3 separate regions of the Homo sapiens genome follow, and all the other regions are linked to region 1. The links come from fine-mapping of genetic effects on gene expression. A gene starts in region 1. Each other region holds a variant in brackets. All regions are shown on one strand. Distances are between the middles of the regions.

Region 1 (6,532 bases):
GAATCTCTGCTGCTGAGTGGGTGCTAAAGGATCCCTAGACACAGAGGTAAGACCAAAGCACCCCAGTAAAGGATGCCCAGATTGGCCAAAAAGAGAAGGCTGAGGAATTATGGCCTCAGAGAAACACTAAAAATAGTGGAGCTGGGCATGGTGGCTTGTGCCTGTAATCCCAGCTACATAGGAGGCTGAGGCAGGAGGACTGCTTGAGCCCAGGAGTTTAAGACCTAGCCTGGGCAACATAGGGAGACCTCATCTCAAAAAATAATAAAATAAAAATACTGGCTACATGGTCAATTCTTAGGGCTGGTGAAGAAAAGCAGAGTTCAACTCAAAAATCACAATAGTCAGTGTCCCATGTGGGGGACCTGTCAGGTTCCTTGTGGTCACAGGTTTGTATGCACTCAGGAGGACACAGTGACCAGGATATCTTATAAGCATTTAACAAATATTTCATAACAGAATGAAAAGTGACCAGGAAACAACCTACTTGGGCAGTACCAAGGGGTTTGGGGCACAGAAGCAGCACTGTCTGAGCCTCTACTCTCCTGCCCTTCCAACATACTCACCTCAAAGGACGCCCGGGCACACGGCTTCAAGGGTAGGTTGGTCCCAATTCTTCTTACTACACTTCGAGCAGCCCCATGTGGCTTGTTTTGCCAGATTGGGATGGTCTGGAGCAAAGAGACGGAGACAGCTACAACCCCAGAGAATGAATCCAACTACTGTCCTTGTCCTCTCCTCTCTAGGTTTGTGGAGACTGAATTCCACAAACCTAGGGACAGGGCACTCTCTAGGGGCAAGTCAACTCTCAATTATAGTGAGGGCAGGTTCCCCAGTTGCCAGCCTACACCCTGGCCAGCCACCCAAGGGAATACCTGCTGCTGCTAAGGCAGTCAATGTTGGGAGGGTCAGGGAAGGGGAGAGGAAGTAGCTGAGTGTAGAGATTATCCAGGCTTTCCTTCCCGTCCTCTGTACAGAAAGGCAGACATACACTGACTCCTGAAGTGCCCCAGGATCATAGTTGGTTCTTCTTAGGGGGAGGGAGTGAAACGGTGGCCTTGCTCCAATTCCAGGCCTCTGGAGAAAGGAGTGCTCAACTGGAGAGTCTCAGAACCTTTTACAGTACTTCAGCAGGCCCAGCACCCAACCTTCCCCACCATACCCCTGCCCTGGGAATGCCCCTTACCACAGTGGCTTCCATTCCTGACATTTGAACCAGCTCCTGCACTTGAAGGACAAGGCAGCCACTGGGCAGCTCCGGGAGGCGGGAGGCGTGACTCCTTCATATCAGGCCATCTGGAGGAGCACCAGATTTCCCTCTTGTGAAACAACCCCCCACAGTGGGGATTTAATGGTCACCACACAAGCCCCAAAAAACCAGGCCCTGCAGAGCCATGACTTCACAGGGGAGAAAACCAGCCCAAGAGGCTGCCCTCACCCAACACTTAGCTCTAAGTCCAGACTCTTAAAGGTTCTGTTAAAGATCTGCGGCCAGGCGCAGTGGCTCACATCTGTAATCCCAGCACTTTGGGAGGCCGAGGTGGGCGGATCACGAGGTCAGGAGAGCGAGACCATCCTGGCTAACACAGTGAAGCCCTGTCTCTACTAAAAATACAAAAAATTAGCCAGGTGTGGTGGCGGGCACCTGTAGTACCAGCTACTTGGGAGGCTGAGGCAGGAGAATGGCGTGAACCCAGGAGGCAGAGCTTGCAGTGAGCCGAGATCACGCCACTGCACTCCAACCTGGGTGACAGAGCGAGACTCCGTCTCAAAAAAAAAAAAAAAAAAAAAAGATTTGCCTAGTGAGCTTGGCCAACCCAAGAGCCTTCCTGGGCTCTCAGGTTTCTTGAGGCAAAACTTCTAAAGATGCAAATAGAATCCTTGGTAGCTACAAAGCTCATCTAGCCAAATTATAAGTACTATCCAAGCCCAGGATTCATTCTTGAAGATGAGATGTAAAAGCACTGCTGGGCCCTTGCAAAGGGAGAGATCAGAGAAAATAGGAGAACGAACACCAGCTCATGCCAATCTCAGTCTCATGAGCTACAGAGAAAAAGAGCCAAAAAAGTTTATCCTGGCTCAGCCACCTTCTGGCTTTGTAGCTACAGGCAAGTTATTTAACTTTTCTGAATGTTGGTTTTTCCATCTGGAAAAAGGAGACAGGAAAAGCTGCCACTGGAGGCTACCTTAAGGGTCAATGAGTGAAATGGGGTTGAGTGCTTAATGAACTGTTAAAACATGACACAGATGGGTGAGGTGACATCTGACTGCTCTTCACAGCAGTCCTTGCATGGTGAGCAGATGCAATCAGTGTGCTCGTTCATTCACTTGTTCATCAAACACCAACAGTACCCACTTGTGCCAGGCCTTGTGCTGGGCACCGTAGGGGCTATGGAAGGAGTAAGACACAGTCATGCTCTCAAGGAACTCGCTGTCCAGCAGAGTGATAGGACATGAATACATACTTCTAGCAAAGGCTGAGTAGCATTAGGCAGGTGGCCAGATGAGGTCAGAGCTCTGGCCCTAGTGCCCTGTAGTAAGTTGCGAGGGAGTAGGAAATGAAGACAAAACAGCAAGAGCACAGGTCCAGCACAAGAAGGTGAAGGACATGGAAAGAGGAGCAGAGCATGATAAAGCTACAAAAGTAGGGGGCAAGTCATGAGGTCCGGGTCACTGGGGAGCCCTGGACAGGCTCTGAATGGGAGATAGACTAGACTGACAAAGCAGCTCTTTCTGGAGACCTCCTGTGGAGGGTCCCCTCTTCTACCCTTGGGAGACGAGGTGTCATTCACTTCACGATACACATGGGGAAAGGAAGTTGGACAGGGGAAGGCACTTGTCTAAGGTCACTCAGTGGTCATGCCAGTGCAAAGCACCCAAAGCCTGGTCCAGGTCCTGCCACCTCCTGCGTGGGCTCCATCTTCTCGGCTCAGTTCAAGCCTTTATTATCAGAGTCCCTCTGTGTGCCAGGCTCTGTGCTGAATGTCCGTGTCGGCCACAAATTGCACTAACGGTGCTTACTGCCACTTCCTCTCCGACCTTACCTCCAAAGACCCAGCCGGGCCTAACCCTCACACACAGCCAGAGGAATCCTTCCCAAACACAGTTAATCACATCGCTCATCCGTTTAAAACTGGCTTACTAGAGCCAACACAGGATAAAATCCACAATCAGTCCCAAACCCATCTTTCTCTGCCGTCTCTAGACCACATTCACTGAGCACCAAGGCCTGCACGCTTCGCAGCCAGCCCTCCTGCTCTCCCCCTTGCCCTCCAGCCACACTGGCCCTCAACCCCCAACACTGGGCCCACCTCTGAGCCCTGCATCAAACACCAGCACCCCCTTCGCCGAGCTCATTCTTCATCATTCCTCAGAGCTCAGCTTAAGCATCACCTTCCTTCCCTGCGACAGGGTCAGGTCCTTTCCTGTGCGCTCCGCAGCACCCTGCCTGTCCCTCGGAGTCCTCGCGAGAGGAACTAGATAACTGTGATCCCCGCGCACAGCACGGTGTCTGCCTAGGACACAGTGAGCGCTTCAACGCGCTGAACTAAACGAATGAAGGGGAACACCAACTCAGCTGTCACCCCCGCCCCCAAGTGTCACTGGCTAGAAGATCTTCCCCCGGTTCGCCGGCAGCACCGGTGGGTCTTGTCACCTCTGCGCCCCGCAGCCCTCCGGAGGCTGCAGTTGCTGTCTGCTGACAGGCGTCCCCTCAGGAGAACGGGAGCTCCTCCAGCGCAGGGCCCTGCTCAGCACCCCTGGTCCCGGGGGCCCCCACGGAGGCCGCCGCGCTCAGTGAAACTTTGCCGCGCGCAGCAGTGGCCGGAGACCCGCGCGGACCCTCTCCCCGCGGGGACCCGCCAGGGCGAGTCGCCCCTCCCCCGCGGCAGACGACCCGACCTGGGCCAAGGTCGGCCAAGTGCTCGCCGCCTGCCCAGCGGCCCTTGGACCCACAGGACCCGGACCCGAGTGCGCGGAAGCCTCCGAGCCGCGGCCAGGTCTCAGAATGCGCGGCGGGGCAGCCCGGCCCGTCAAGCAGCGAAGCCGAAACTAGAAGCCTGAGGTCTGGCTTGGTCACTGTTTGCTGGGGAACTCCGACGAGCAACTACCCTTCGGGGACTCAGTTTCCCCCGGGCCAAGTGAGACGGACAGCTGCGGCTCCCGCGAGAACTCGCGCGGGAACAGGAGCTGCGGGCTCCGCACAGCGCCCGGCACGTAGACCCAGTCTACTAACGGGCTGGAAGGTCGCGCTCCCGCCTCCGCGCCTCCCTAGAACCTTTCTCACCTCAAGCTCGGGCTCCCGGACTCTCTCACCTCACGGCCCCTCCTTCCACCTTGGGCCGCCCAGCCTCAACCGCCCTCACTTCCGCTGACCCGCCCCCCGGAAGCGATCCTCCGCAGCTGCGCACCGAGGCGCACCTCCGCGCACCCTCAGGAGGCGGGTCCAGCTCGGTGGCGAGGGGAGCGCGGCCCCCGAGTGGGCGAGGCGCTGGCGGCTGTAGGCTCCGATACCGCGGAGCACACTCCCCTCCATCGAGACCGTGCCCCCGCGGGGTCTGTGTCCCCGGGAGGAGTTGGCTGCGTTTGGAGATCCCTCGGCCTGGTATTCGTCGCGTCTCCCTGCTTGTTGCTCTCCACGTTTAGCCCCATCCGACTTCTGGAAGCCCAGGGGTGTGTCGCTCGACCCCTAAAATATGCTCCTACCCCTAGGGCAAACTTCAGAATCCTCACCCTGGCCCCCTTCCCAGTTCTTGGTTCCCAGGCAGGTCCCTTTGCAAAGCCTCTCTCCAGCAAGAATGCGCAGAATGGGCCTCTTTCTCCTCTTGACTCCTGCCCTCCAGCACTTTGCAGCTTTCTTCTATTTTAGCCTCTCTCTCTCTCTCTCACACACACACACACACACACACACACACACACACACACACACGGTATATTCAATGAGTTTGCTTATTAGATGGGTACTTGATGTACAAGACTCCAGAGGCTCTGTGGGAAGAGCCACATTCCTTCCAGGCTCACTAACCCACTCCCTCTTTGTGCTCCAGCCCTCACTGTCTTGGTCTGTGGCATGCAGTTCCTGGGTCACATTTCCTTCTCTGCCTTCAGCACAGCCTCGGGCTGTGCCTGGCTCCCAGGCTGGAGTTCCTTGGTTCCAAAGCCTGCAGTCCCCTCTGCCAGAGACAGAGCTGGTTTCATGGGTGAACAGCCCATGCAGTCACAACGGGCCGCATGCTCAGAATCCTGTACTTGGTTTAGTACTTTGCTGTTGCCGTCTTGAAATGATTTTCTAATAGGGGTTCTTGTGTTTTCATTTTGCACGGGGCTGTGCAAATTATGTGACTGGTCCTGGCTAGAGACCTCAGAGGTCGTCCACCCTGATCTCCACCATATCTCAAACGCTGAAGATTGACTTCCAGGTCTGGCCCTCTTCCCAGGATGGCACATTGTGTTTTAATCATTACCTTTCCCTCCTGTGCGATGGCGGATCATGCAAGTCCACGCTGGCTGTCTGTCCTGGGTGTAGATGCTGATTTGGTGTCCCACTCAGATCCCCTTGCAGGAAGAACGGAGCTCCCTACCTGGGAATTTCCTTCACCTCCCAAGCCAATGACTGATAAAAGGTCCAAAAGGCCAGTTCAGCTCTGCAGTGTGGTTTATGCCCCACAGCTCTTCCACTGTGGGTCAGGCCAAGGCTGGGCTGAGACTGTTCCTGCTCAGCATTTTTCCTTTCCCTCTTCTGCTTCCTTCCTTCTTTTACTGGTTTTTCTGGAAGTACACTCCCCCCCAGCCCCACCAAACAAACAAAACAAACAAACAAAAAAACACTTCATGCCTGTCTCAGGCTCTGCTTTTAAGACAATGATTTTAACTCCCAGATCTCTCTCAACAGAGAGCACCAGATTCTCAAAACAGTAAGTCCTACCACTTGTTCTATCGTAAAACTTATTTTGGGCAAGTCACTCAAGCCTTCGATAGGTAAGATAGTACCTGAAAGCATTCCAGCTCAACTCTGCCCCAAGAGGGAGCCACCCCATGGAAGGACGGAGCTGAGCAACATGCCACTCAAAGGAAAAGCACTTAGAACCACTCTAGTTAGTCTTCTCTAATTTTATTACAGGGCATGTTGGGGACAGGGGAGGGAAGTGTTAGAGGAGTGACAGGGCAGCCCGGGGCCCTCTCCCACCCTGAGCCTCGAGGCCTGGTGGGGGACATGAACTGCAGAGGCATCAGATAAGGCCTCAGAAAGCCCAGGCCATCATTTTCCATGGGACCAGGCTGGCTCAATGTGGAACTGGCCCTCCCAGAGCAGCAGGAGAAGGGCTCGCATGGGCTGCCCCCGTCACCTGTGCCTGACAGGATGGGGGGGGAGGCAGAGAGAGAGCATCAGACGCCCTCCCTCCCCATAAGGGGCATGGGGGATGGGGACACTTCCTCCCAGGACACAGGGAGCCTGGCTGAGCTGGCTGGCTCATGCCCCATCTGGTCTGGAGGTCAGAGGGGAGTGAGACACTCTGGTTTGAAAGGCCTTCCT
Region 2 (6,532 bases), 97 kb before region 1:
GACGCAGCGAGACTCTGTCTCAATAAATAAATAAATAAATAAATAAATAAAATAAAAATGGCAGTACATTAATATATTACTTAAGGAATTTTAAGCTGCATGTTCATGAAATACTGGAGACAAGTATGTCAAAATGTAAACAGTGGTTTAATTCCAGGTGATAGGAAATATGAATAATTGTTATTTTCTTCTTTGTACTTTTTGGGTTTTTAGTTTTTCAACATGCAGGGAAGGGATTCAAGAGTGACTGTGTGACCCATCAGGTCCCTCAGCTCAAAGAACCTGCAATGTTGTGATTCTAGATGGTCATCCTTAAAGTCCTAGCTCCCCGCCCAACCCCAAAGGGCTTACACATTTTGCAGGGCAGGGGAGCCTCAACACTGGCGCTCCACTGGGGAAAGTTCTTGGCTTCCACCAGGAAAGAATTCAAGGGTGAACTAGTGGTAGAAGAAAACAGCTTTATTGAGGCAGCAGTGTTACAGCTCCGTGACTGTTCCCACTGAGGAGAGAGTGGAGTCTAGCAGCTCAGGGGCAGTTCTGCAGTTTCATTTATATCCACTTTTAATTACATGCAAATTAAGGGGCAGGTTATTCAGAAATTTGTTTTTATTTGAGACACAGTCTCACTCTGTCGCCCAGGCTGGAGTACAGTGGTACAATCTCGGCTCACTGCAACCTCCACCTCCCGGGTTTAAGTGATTCTCCTGCCTCAACCTCCAGAGGTGCTGGGATTACAGGTGTGTGCCATCATGCCTGGCTAATTTGTGTATTTTTAGTAGAGATGGGGTTTCATCATGCTGGCCACGCTGGTCTCGAACTCCTGACCTCGTGATCCGCCTGCCTCAGCCTCCCAAAGTGCTGGGATTACAGGTGTGAGTCACCGCGCCTGGCCGGTTATCCAGAAATTTCTAGAAAAAGGTGGTAACTTCCAGGTTGTTGCTAGGGAATGGGTAAACTGTCATGGCACTGGTAGGCACGTCAGCCAGTCTTAAATCTCATTCAGTGTCGAGTCCTGCCTCCTACCTCACAAGGAATGGCCTTGGTGCTGCTGCCCCAGATCCCCTCCCCTGTCTCAAATCCAGGGTTAACATCCCTCAACTTGAAACCTGCTGGAGGGACAGGGCAAACTACTTGCAGTTCAGCTACTGCTCTAGGCTGGCTTCTTCTAGGCATTTGGCTGTGCTATTTCCTCTTCCTGGCACCCTCTCCCCATTCCTCTTTGCCTACAAGCTTCCTTCAGGCCTCATCAGCTCAGCCACCCCTTTCTCTAGGAGGCCTTCCTTGTTTCCCCTCCGCTGCCTGGGTTAGCCTCTGCTCCCCTGCGCCCCATCAGTGCTCTGAGCTGCTTGTCTACTTACTATGAGCTCTTGAGGCCAGGGACATGCCTTCTTTCTTCCTGTGCTCCCAGGGCCTAGTACAAGACATGACACCTCATGGTTCATCAGTAACCTTCTGTTGAATGAATGGACAATCAGCATCAAAACAACAAATTCTTCCCTGGGCTGAGTTTTCTGGTACTCATCCTAAAAACTCTGCGGAAGGTAAGAGGCAGAATCAGGATGTGAACTCAGAGACCCTGACTCCAGAGCCCACACTCTTAACCACTGTGCTCTGAGCCCCTAATGAACTTGGCTGGTTCATATACCAACTATGTATTGAGAACCTAGTATTTGTCAGGCACTGTTCTATGGTAATGAAGAAAACAGACTTGAAAAACCAACTGTTGGGTAATCTATGCTACCATCTGGGTGGCAAGATCATTGGTATCCCAAACCTCAGCATCACACATTATACCCATTTAAGAAATCTGCACATGTACCTCCTGAAATAAAAGTAGGATTTTTTTTTTTTTTTTTTTTTTTTTTTTTTTTAGACAGAGTCTCTCTCTGTCGCCCAGGCTAGAGTAAAGTGGCTCAATCTTGGATCACTGCAGCCTCAGCCTCCCAGGTTCAAGCATTCTCCTGCTTCATCCTCCCGAGTTGCTGGGACTACAGGTGTGAGCCACCACGGCCAGTATTTTTAGTAGAGATGGGGTTTCGCCATATTGGCCAGGCTGATCTGGAACTCCTGGGCTCAAGTGATCTGCCCATCTTGGCCTCCCAAAGTGTTGGGATTACAGGCGTGAGCCACCATGCCCAGCTGGAAAAATTTTTTTTTCTTTTTTTTTTTTTCAAGACCGAGTCTTGCTGTGTCGCCCAGGCTGGAGGGCAGTGGCGCAACCTCGGCTCACTGCAAGCTCCACCTCCCGGGTTCACGCCATTCTCCTGCCTCAGGCTCCCGAGTAGCTGGGACTACAGGCACCTGGCCACCATGCCTGGCTAATTTTTTTTGTATTTTTAGTAGAGACGGGGTTTCACCGCGTTAGCCAGGATGGTCTCGATCTCCTGACCTCATGATCCTCCCGCCTTGGCCTCCCAAAGTGCTGGGATTACTGGCGTGAGCCACCGCGCCAAGCCAATTTTTTTTTTTTTTTTAAGGTATCAGCAGAACATGCTCGTCCTCCTGCCCGGGTGGGGCCTGCACTCTCCAGTGTGCTGCCTGCTCTGTCCCCTCTGGTGCCGCCTCTTCTCCTGACCCCTCCGTAGGGATTTGGGTTATGAGCGCCTATGTGGGAGGGGCAGACTGAGGACCAATTGGGAGGCTGCCTGGTAATCCAGTAGAGTGATGGGGCCTGCATCCACCCCAGGGCAGTACTGCTTTCTCATTCATGCACGGGCTTAGTTGAAAGAGGTCTTGGTATCTAAGAGCAATAAGCCCCCAAGGTCTACAATCGAAGGGGTTCCAGGCTGGGGTGGTGGTTCACGCCTGTAATTCCAGCAGTTTGGGAAGCTGAGGCAGGCGAATCACTTAAGATCAGGAGTTTGAGACCACCCTAGCCAACGTGGTGAAACCCTGTCTCTAATAAAAATAGAAAAATTAGCTGGCTATGGTGGCGTGTGCCTTTAATCCCAGCCACTCTGATAGCTGAGGCAGGGAAATCGCTTGAACCCAAGAGGCTGAGGTTGCAGTGAACCAAGATCGCACCACTGCATTCCAGCCTGGGTGAGAGAGTGAGACTCCATCTCAAAAAAAAAAAAAAAAAA[T/AAT]CAATGGAGTTCCAATGAATGACACATCTGCTTTTCTTCCCCTCCTGTATTTTCTCTTGCACAGCATCCCACCCTTTGCCACCTGACACCCCAGCCACCCCCAGCTTCCCAGCTTGACTTCTACAACGTGTAGACTTTCATCCGTCTCAGAATGGGTGTGATATCAGCAGCCTTCGTTTCCACTTCCTGTGACAGCTGTAACCTCTGTTCTCACTGAATTGCTAAGATTGCTGATAGAAGCCAACTGCTTGGAAGCTTTTTAAGTGACTAGGATCAAGCTCCGTGCCAAGGCATGGAAAAATGGGCTACGGAATGGCCCAGAAATTTAGTGAATTAAACTAGTAATTCCCCCTTGTTTCTAGGCCCACAAGAGCCCATTCAAGAAACAGAGTAGATCTAAAATGAAAATCATTTTAGCTTCATGTGGGAGGAAGCGTCAATCTTCCCATAGGAAGCACCAGAAGCCCAGCAGAGGACAAGAGCCGAGCCCTGGCCTCCTCATTAAAATAAATGTCACTGGCTAAGGAGGCAAGATGCAACGTGCAAGGTGGTATCCTGGATTAGATCCTGTAACACAAAAAGGGACCCCAGTGGAAAAATGGAGAATCCGATTAAATTCAGCCATTCAGTTAATAGTATTGTACCAATGTTAATCTGTTAGTTTGGATAAATGTACCATGATTATGTAAGATGTTAACACCAAATGAAGCTGGCTGAAGGGCATACGGGAACTCCGTGTACCATCTTTGCAACTCTCTGGAAATCGAAAATGGTTGATTTCAATTGAAGTTTAAAAACAAATAAAATAATTTAAAAAAAAAAAAAAGAGACCAGGCGCGGTGGCTCACACCTGTAATCTCAGCACTTTGGGAGGCCGAGGCAGGCGGATCACGAGGTCAGGAGTTTGAGACCAGCCTGACCAACATGCTGAAACTCCGTCTCTACTAAAAATACAAAAATTAGCCAGGTGTGGTGGTGCGCAACTGTAATCCCAGCTACTCAGGAGGCTGAGGCAGGAAAATCACTTGAACCCAGGAGGCAGAGTTTGCAGTGAGCTGAGATGGTGCCACTGCACTCCAGCTTGGGTGACAAAGCGAGACTCCATCTCAAAAAAAAAAAAAAAAGAAAGAAAGAGATGTCACTGGAATAGTCTTTTTGAATTTGCAAGGGACTAGACTGCAGATTATACACTCAGATATGCCATCTGACCTTAAGCCCTAAGTGTTGTTTGGTGGCCAAAAAGACACTGGCCAAATGATTCAACACTCACAGAGTGTCTGTGGCACTTCAGGGATGGCAAGACAGAATCACATAGGATCCTGCCCTGAAGGAGTTTACTCACTAGTGAGAGGGACAGACATGTATATGGATAGCTGCAACAGCAGCATAGTGGTGAGGGAGAGAGAGGTTAGTCAAGACCTTGAAGGTGGAGAGAATTTCAATATAGACAGAAGCCAAGGGACTCAAGGCCTTATGAGGGCTGGTACTGTAGACTGAATGTTGTGTTCTCTCCCACATTCATATGTTGAAGCCTATGGCCCACTGTAATGGTATTTGGAGGTAGAGCCTTTGGGAGGTAATTAGGTCATGAGGCTAGAGCCCTCATGAATGGGATTAGTGCCCGTATAAAAAGAGGAGACACGGAATCTCTTTGTGCTCTCAGCCATCTCAACAAGAAGATGTCTTTCTGCAAACCAGGAAAAGAGCCCTCACCAGCCATCAGATCTGCTGGCACCTTGAACTTGGACTTCCCAGCCTCCAGGACTGTGAGTTATAAATGTTTGTTGGTTAAGCCACCCAGTCAATGTTGTTCTGTTACAACAGCCTGAACTAAGGCAGTTGGTGTCAGCAAAACAATGGGACATATAGGCATGTAACCTTTCAGAGAGCTGCCAACAGTCCAATAAAGCTGAAACTTGGTGGGGGAGTGGAAGGAGTGAGAGTGAATATAGAGGTTTCAGAGACACAGGACATAAGATGGGCAAGGAGGACAAAAGTCTCTTCTATTTTTTAAATATAATTGTTGGGGCAAGGCACAGCGGCTCACGCCTGTAATCCCAGCACTTTGGGAGGCCGAGGCCAGCAGATCACCTGAGGTCAGGAGTTTGAGACCAGCCTGTTCAACATGGTGAGACCCCGTTTCTACTAAAAATACAAAAAATTAGCTGGGCGTAATGGCGTGCACCTGTGATCCCAGCTACTTCGGAGGCTGAGGCAGGAGAATGGCTTGAACCTGGGAGGCAGAAGTTGCAGTGAGCCGAGATCATGCCATTGCACTCTAGCTTGGGCAACAAGAGCAAAACTCTGCCTCAGAAAGAAAAAATATATATATAATTTTTGTCATTAATACAAGTAATACAAGTTCATTTTAAGAAGTTTGGAAAATCCAGAATAGTATAAAGAAGGAAAGCAAACTCAATTGTTATTTTCTTTCCAGAACTATTATTTTGGTGCATTTTCTTCAATGTATTTTGTTCCTAGTCGAACTCATATTGTGCAATTGGGTAGGCTTTGTTTGTTCTATTTAGCGCAATATAATGAGCCTTTCCCCATCTCATTAAAAAAGGACCTTAAAGCAGGAAGAGAGGTCATTTAGTCCACCTCTCTTCTAATGCAAGAATCCCGATTCAACATTTCTGATGTTTGACTTTGTCGGCACATGTCCCATAACAAGAATCTCATTCATGAATAGGTCCCAGTCCATTCTATTGTTGGCTAAGTCCAGTGATCACAGAGCTCTTCCGTTCATCTTAGTTGTGCTTCTCTATAACGATCCATCCGAGAAGACAGATTTTCTTTTTTTTTTTTTAGACAGAGTCTTGCTCTGTCACCCAGGCTGGAGTGCAGTGGCGTGATCTCGGCTCACTGCAAGCTCTGCCTCCCGGGTTCATGCCATTCTCCTGCCTCAGCCTCCTGAGTAGCTGGGACTATGGGCGCCCGCCCCCACACCTGGCTAATTTTTTGTATTTTTAGTAGAGATGGGGTTTCACCGTGTTAGCCAGGATGGTCTCGATCTCCTGACCTCGTGATCCGCCCGCCTCGGCCTCCCAAAGTGCTGAGATTACAGGCGTGAGCCACTGCCACCGGCCCAAGAAGACAGATTTTCACATGCATCAAGAATTAAAGAATCTCAGGGAAAAGGAGGGGGAGGTCCTTGAGGAAGACTGACCTGGAGGTCCTCATGGAGATAAAGACCTGCAATGACTTCACGGAGGGTTATAGCTGCTGTGCCAGGAATCCTTGGCCTCTAAGCCAAGAAAGGGAGTCTTTTTTTTTTTTTTTTTAGGTTTCAGAAATTTTTGCTTTTCTCATATCATGTGTCCCAAAGTTGAATTTGTCGAATGTTTTCAAGCAGAAAATGGCATGATCAGAGCTGTCCTTGATAGCTAATACCTTAGCTGTCACTTACTGAGGGTTTATTGTGTATAGACACAATGCTAGGGACTTTA
Region 3 (6,532 bases), 46 kb before region 1:
ACCAGGCCCTAGTCACCTGGCTTTGCCTTTGCCCTGCTGTGTGATCTTAGGTAAGTCAAACTTTTCAGCTGGCCCTCGGTTTCCCCGTAAGTCTCATGCAGAGGTGAATGGTGAGCTGCTTGCTGCAGCAGAGGCCTGGCTAGGAAGGCACACAGTTTAGCATGGATTTCACCACTATGGGAGTGGTGAAGTTGGGGAGGAGAGGTGTGGGAGGTTGTCTTTAGCCCCACCCTCTGGTGACATCACACAAGACACCCCCAGTCCCTGGAAGCCCCGCCCCTAGTGCCCCTCATCTGTGGAAGTGCTCAGCATCTGGTGAATTTGCCCAGTCCCATAGTAGAGGTCACCAGCCCCCAGGCTTGAGAGAAACCCCCAGGTACCCAGTGCAATTTGCCAGACTTGGAGGGGCCCATGGAGGTGGGCTGGGCTGAGCTGCCTGAATAGACAGGGCCCAGCAGCCTGGTGGGCACACGACTCAGAGGCTGACCACTCAGAGGATGCCCTGATGGTGCCCTCCGGATATCCATCCTCATCCTGCTGGCTCAGGCTTGACCCCTGCCCCTGCTTTTTCCTTTCCCCTGGATCAGAGTCCCTTTCCATGGAGTCAGGAGGTGGAAACTAATTCTGAAAACAGACCTACTTAGGTGGAGTGAGGCCTCTAGCTGAGGTCTAAAGAAAATAGGGCAGCGGGGTCTCTGTCATCCTAGCATGGTGCCTCAGGTTTTGTCCATAGGGCCCATTATATCTGGGGGAGGGAGGTATAAGCGAGCGCTGTCACTCACCTAAGGAGGTGGCTTGAGCCAGGGCCTCCCTGGAGAAGATCAGGTGCAAGCAGGTAGCCAGCAACTGAGGGAGACTGAATTGCTAGAAGCCTAAGAAAGTAATTTATAAGAAAGAGCCTGGTTGCCTGCTTTAGACCAGGATTTTGCAAAGTTGTTCTGTAGGATGCAGACAAGTGTGCCTGGAGCAGGGCAGCAGTAGTGTCTGCAAGCATCTACAGCCCAGTCCTGGCTCCACCTCCCTCCCCCATCCTCCAACCTTGGGTAAGGAGCTTTTTTTTTTCCTTTCTTTTTTCTTTTTTTTTTTTTTTAGAGAGTCTCACTTTGTCACCCAGACTGGAGTACAGTGGCACGATCTCGGCTCACTGCAATCTCAGCTCCCCGAGCTCAAGCGATTCTCCTGCCTCAGCCTCCTGAGTAGCTGGGATTACAAGCATGCACCACCATGCCCGGCTAATTTTTGTATTTTTAGTAGACATGGGGTTTCCCAATATTGGCCAGGCTGGTCTCGAACTCCTGACCTCAGGTGATCCGCCCACCTCGGCCTCCCAGTGAGCTGGGATTACAGGTGTGAGCCACTGCGCCCAGCTGGGAGCTTTTGACTTCTCTGAATTTCATTATCCGCAACAACAAAATGGGCAGAATAGTACTTACCTCCCAGGCAAGTTATGAGAGTTAATTGCAACAGGACTGTAAAGAGTGGGCATATAGTAAACACTTTCTACATTTAAACTGGCTTTTTTTTTTCTTCTTGAGATGGAGTCTCACTCTGTTGCCCAGGCTTGAGTGCAGTAGTGCGATCTTGGCTCACTGCAACCTCCGCCTCCCGGGTTCAAGGCCTTCTCCTGCCTTAGCTTCCCGAGTAGCTGGGACTACAGGCACGTGCCACCACGCCCAGCTAATTTTTGTATTTTTAGTAGAGACGGGGTTTCACCATGTTGGCCAGAATGGTCTCGATCTCTTGACCTCGTGATCCACCCACCTCGGCCTCCCAAAGTGCTGGGATTACAGGCGTGAGCCACTGCGCCCGGCCTCAAGTGGCTTTATAATATAATTATTACTACGGAAGGAATCCGTGGTCACATAAGCTTGGCAAATGTTGATTCAACAAAGCTAAGCCAACTTCTTTGCTGCAGGACTTCTTAGAGCTTTTTTTTTTTTTTTTTTTTTGAGAAAGGGTCTCACTCTGTCACCCAGGCTGGAGTGCAGTGGCACAATCTTGGCTCCCGGCAACCTCTGCCTCTGAGGCTCAAGGGATCTTCCTGCCTCAGCTTCCCAAGTAGCTGGGACTACAGGTGCACACCACCACACCTGGCGAATTTTTGTATTTTTTCATAGAGACAGGGTTTTACCATGTTGCCCAAGCTGGTTTCGAACTCCTGATTGCAAGTGATCCACCTGCCTCGGCCTCCCAAAGTGCTGGGATTACAGGCATGAGCCATCGTGTCCAGCCCTTCTGAGAGTCTTTAATGTGCTGTTATATCTTGGGAAGTTCCAAGAGTGGGATATGGAGCACAGGACTGGACTTATCAGATCACAGGCACCCAGGAGCTAGGTGTCCACAGGGCACAGCCATCGCCATCATTCGCTGGTCTTTGCCGCAGTAGTGGAATAGAAACCTTGCTGGGTGGGAGGACTCTGGGGAAGGCCTTCCAGTTTCTGGGCTCTGCTTTCCTAAGTGTAAAACAAGAGAGTTGCCCAAGATGCTTTCAGAGGTCTTTTCTGGTCCCCCCAAGGTTCTCAGTTGGGAAGACAAAGTTGTGGACAAGAGTGGGGGCCAGATTGTTGAGGTTGAAACCATCTCTTGGGGAGATGGAGAAATCCAGAACTGGCTCCCCAACCAGCAAGGCTGGCCAAGGGAGGTCTTGTGCTCTGGATGGAAGTGGCCCCGTCAATTAGTGCAGCAGCAATGTCTGCTTCCTAAATCTGCCCTGTGCCAGGCTCGCTGGGGAATAGAAGAGTCCTGCACATGCCTGTTGTCCTAAGTAGCAGCCCCTGTGCAGCAGTGTAACGACTCCTGCTTCCCCACTGGACTAGGAAAGACTGGGGAGCAGGGCTGATGCCAGAATCCTAATGCAGGAGGAGCTTAGGAATGCAAATCAGGCTCTGGAGATGTGGGCTTGTGGGGGTGGGGTCGTCTTGATGCTGCCCTTGCATAGCAAGCACTCTGCATTTACTTGGACTGTGTGTGACTTATTTGATTGGTTTTGGGGGTGATCACAGTGCCACTGGGGGCAGAGAACATGAATGCTTTATCCTGCCTGAATCTCTTTTCCTTGTCTGGTGACTGGTGCAGAGGTAGTCACAATAAATATCTGATGAACCTGAACACTGAGTCCAATAAGTAAGCTTGGAGGGAATTTATTTGGCAGGCAGGGAGGGATTGTCTGGCAGGTTTTTCAATAACTATTTGAGTTAATGAATAACACAATGAATGACGGTAAGCCTGAATTATGTAATTGAAGCCAGGTAAAACAGTATAAAATTAGGAAACGATAAATAGCCCTTGCCACCTTGTGTTGCAAAGTGCATTTTAGGGTAGTGGTTAAGAGCACAGTGGCTCACATTTGTAATCCCAGCACT[T/G]TGGGAGGCCGAGTGGGAGGGTCGCTTGAGGCCAGGAGTTCGAGACCAGCCTGGGCAACAAAGTGAGACCCTGACTCTATAATAAAGTAAAAATAAATTTAAAAAATCAGCTGAGCATGGTAACATGTACCTGTAGCCCCAGCCACTTGGGAGGCTGATAGGAGGATTGCTTGAGTCCATGAGGTCAAGGCTGCAGTGAGCTGTGATTATACCACTGTGCTCCAACCTGGGGGACAGAGCAAGACGCTATCTTAAAAACAAAACAAGGCTGGGTGCCGTGGCTCACGCCTGTAATCCCAACACTTTGGGAGGCCAAGGTAGGTGGATCACCTGAGGTCAGGAGTTCGAGACCAGCCTGGCCAATGTGGTGAAACCCTGTCTACTAAAAATACAAAAATTAGCTGGGCGTGGTGGCGGGCACCTGTAATCCTAGGTACTCGGGAGGCTGAGGCAGGAGAATTGCTTGAACCCAGGAGGCGGAGGTTGCAGTGAGCCGAGATTGAGCCATTGCACTCCAGCCTGGGTGACAGAGCAAGACTCTGTCTCAAACAAACAAACAAACAAAACACACAAAAAAACAGACTTGAGTTCAGAGCATGCCTCTGCCATCTGCTACTTCCTGGCTAGGTGGGTGGGCAAGGCACTTAACTTCTCTGTACTTCAGTTTCCTTACCTGGAAAATGGGAATAATGATAGTGTCTGCCTCTCAGGGTTGCTGGGAAGCGTCTAGCAGGTGCTGTGTGAGCATTTGCTATGATTTGTTTTTGTTTCTATATCTTTTGCCAGATCATGACATTCCTGAGGGCAGGGATCAAATCTTTCACTCTGTTCTTTGTCCCATCCAGCACAGGGTCTGAGGCAAAGAAGGGCTCAGTAAGTGTTTGTTAAATGAATGAATCAAGGTTAAACTGTGTAACCCATTATAGGTCAGGGGAAAGTGGGATTGGGGGAGCAGTAAGGAGGCCCCAGAGGTGGCAGCTTGTAGTGGTCTTAAAGGATTTCAGTGCAGGGAAAGGAAGGTGGCACAGGGTGTGACATTGGGGTTAGGTGGGGAATAAGGGTAGTAGGAGCAGGTCATGTGGGCCTTGAATGCCAGGGTAAGGGGTTATATTGGATTTATTTGGAACTAGCAACCATGGGCAGTTGGGGGAGGGCCTGGAGAGGGGATTTTGAGAGTGGGGGTGTGGTTCATCAGTTGTTAAATGGGGACTTTCAGGAAAAAAGTGGTCTTTTGAGTTGGGCCTGGAAAGATATGAAGTGTTATCAGAATGGTGTCATGTTGTTCTTTCTTTTTCTTTTTTTTTTTTTTTGAGACGGAGTTTCCCTCTTGTTGCCCAGGCTGGAGTGCAATGGTGCGATCTCGGCTCACCGCAACCTACGCCTCCTTGGTTCAAGTAATTCTCCTGCCTCAGCCTCTGGAGTAGCTGGGCTTATAGGCAGGTGCCACCACAACTGGCTAGTTTTGTATTTTTATTTATTTATTTATTTTTGAGATGGAGTCTCACTCTGTCGCCCAGGCTGGAGTGCAGTGGCGTGATCTTGGCTCACTGCAAGCTCCACCTCTCGGGTTCATGCCATTCTCCTGCCTCAGCTCCCGAGTAGCTGGGACTGCAGGTGTCTGCCACCACGCCTGGCTAATTTTTTGTATTTTAGTAGAGATGAGGTTTCACCGTGTTAGCCAGGATGGTCTCGATCTCCTGACCTCATGATCCGCCCGCCTCGGCCTCCCAAAGTGCTGGGATTACAGGCGTGAGCCACCATGCCCGGCCTAGTTTTGTATTTTTAGTAGAGACAGGATTTCTCCATGTTGGTCAGGCTGGTCTCGACCTCCCGACCTCAGGTGATCCGCCTGCCTCAGCCTCCCAAAGTGCTGGGATTACAGGCGTGAGCCACTGCGCCCGGTCATGTTGTTCTTTCATTCAGCAAACATTGAGTGCCAGCTATTTGCTAAGCACCAGGGATTCACAAAATAATGAGACAAACTGCCTCCCCTTGATGAGCTCACATGAACAATCATGAGAAATGTGAAAATCGTCAAAGGATGGTCTGATGATAAGCACTCAAGTGGAGGGGTCATCGTAGGAGGTTCAGGAGGCCAGGGAAAGCATCCCAGAAGAAATGTTTTTTTGTTTGTGGTTTTTTTTTTTTTTTTGAGACGGAGTCTCGCTGTCACCCAGGCTGGAGTGCAGTGGCGCGCACTGCAGGCTCCGCCCCCTGGGTTCACGCCATTCTCCTGCCTCAGCCTCCCGAGCAGCTGGGACTACAGGTGCCCCCCACCTCACCTGGCTAAATTTTTGTATTTTTAGTAGAGACGGGGTTTCACCGTGTTAGCCAGGATGGTCTCCATCTCCTGACCTTGTGATCCGCCCGTCTCAGCCTCCCAAAGTGCTGGGATTACAGATGTGAGCCACCGCACCTGGCCGCTGTTTGTTTTTTTAAGAGACAGGATCTCGCTTGAGATCAAGCTTGATCAAGCTTGAGAGTAGTAGTGTGATCAGAGCTCACTGTACATCAAATTCCTGGGCTCAAGGGATCCTCCTGCCCCAGCCTCTCCAGTAGCTGGGACTACAGGCACATGCCACCACACCTGGCTAACTTTTTTGTAGAGATAGGATCTCACTACATTGCCCAGGCTGGTCTTGAACTCCTGGCCCCAAGCAATCCTCCTGCTCTGACCTCTCAAAGTGCTGGGATTACAGGAGTGAGGCCGCATGCCTAGCCAAGAAATGGGTTTTTGAGGAATGAATAGGGGTTTGCCTAGTAGGCAAGATGAGGAAAATGTCTCAGGCAGAGGGAACGGCTCGTGTAAAGCTACAGACATGTGAAAGAGCAGTCCAGGGGTTGGTGGGGCTGTGTCTGGATTTGAAGTGCACTGTGGTTGTGCAACAAGACTGGAGAGGGTAGCAGGGACCAGGTCATGCAGGGTAATGGAGGGTCAGTAGGGGACCCTGGCCACTCTTGAGGAGCTAGATAGGTAGAGGCAGTGGGTCTATTAGCAAGGTCATTATTGCCACCAGTTGAACACTAATGGTGGCATGAACACGGGCTGAGAGCGCCTCACCCCTCTCATGTGTTTCACATGGCCAGATCTGTTCTTTAGGAGAGAAAACAGCTGGTGCTGCTGTGTGGAGCCTGGGACCGGAAAGGAAATTAACAAGACAGGGAGCCTT

Alleles and levels. Alleles are on the strand shown, and positions count from the first base shown. SD is a standard deviation of normalised expression in the study named. Not every link is listed here.
For the expression in lymphoblastoid cells of the gene that starts at base 4,361 in region 1, allele T in region 2 goes with a lower level than allele AAT (moderate effect, 0.66 SD a copy in CAP).

The links. PIP is the estimated chance that this variant, and not a neighbour inherited with it, causes the effect.
Region 2: its variant is the best candidate, but not a certain one, in a credible set for the expression of MTFR1L in lymphoblastoid cells (CAP, PIP 0.53).
Region 3: its variant is the best candidate, but not a certain one, in a credible set for the expression of MTFR1L in whole blood (TOPMed, PIP 0.50).

Annotation. Positions count from the first base shown.
Region 1 is chr1:25,817,783-25,824,314 of GRCh38, reverse strand. It overlaps MTFR1L (mitochondrial fission regulator 1 like), which reads right to left and starts at 4,361. Exons shown (of 7, transcript NM_001099625.2): 1 at 4,286-4,361; 2 at 1,187-1,296; 3 at 567-671. The coding sequence starts at 1,210. It overlaps SELENON (selenoprotein N), which reads right to left. Exons shown (of 12, transcript NM_206926.2): 12 at 6,094-6,532. LOC646471 (a long non-coding RNA gene) reads left to right here and starts at 709. Exons shown (of 1, transcript NR_024498.1): 1 at 709-4,361. RefSeq lists enhancers at 3,566-3,655, 4,036-4,175, 5,818-6,318 and silencers at 3,766-3,935, 4,386-4,575.
Region 2 is chr1:25,914,909-25,921,440 of GRCh38, reverse strand. No RefSeq gene overlaps it. Among named protein-coding and RNA genes, the nearest start is that of MIR3917, 12 kb to the right of the region's middle. The variant T/AAT (reference allele first, on the strand shown) is at 3,084.
Region 3 is chr1:25,864,127-25,870,658 of GRCh38, reverse strand. It overlaps PAQR7 (progestin and adipoQ receptor family member 7), which reads left to right. Exons shown (of 3, transcript NM_178422.6): 2 at 1-50. Among named protein-coding and RNA genes, the nearest start is that of AUNIP, 7.9 kb to the right of the region's middle. RefSeq lists an enhancer at 442-943. The variant T/G (reference allele first, on the strand shown) is at 3,363.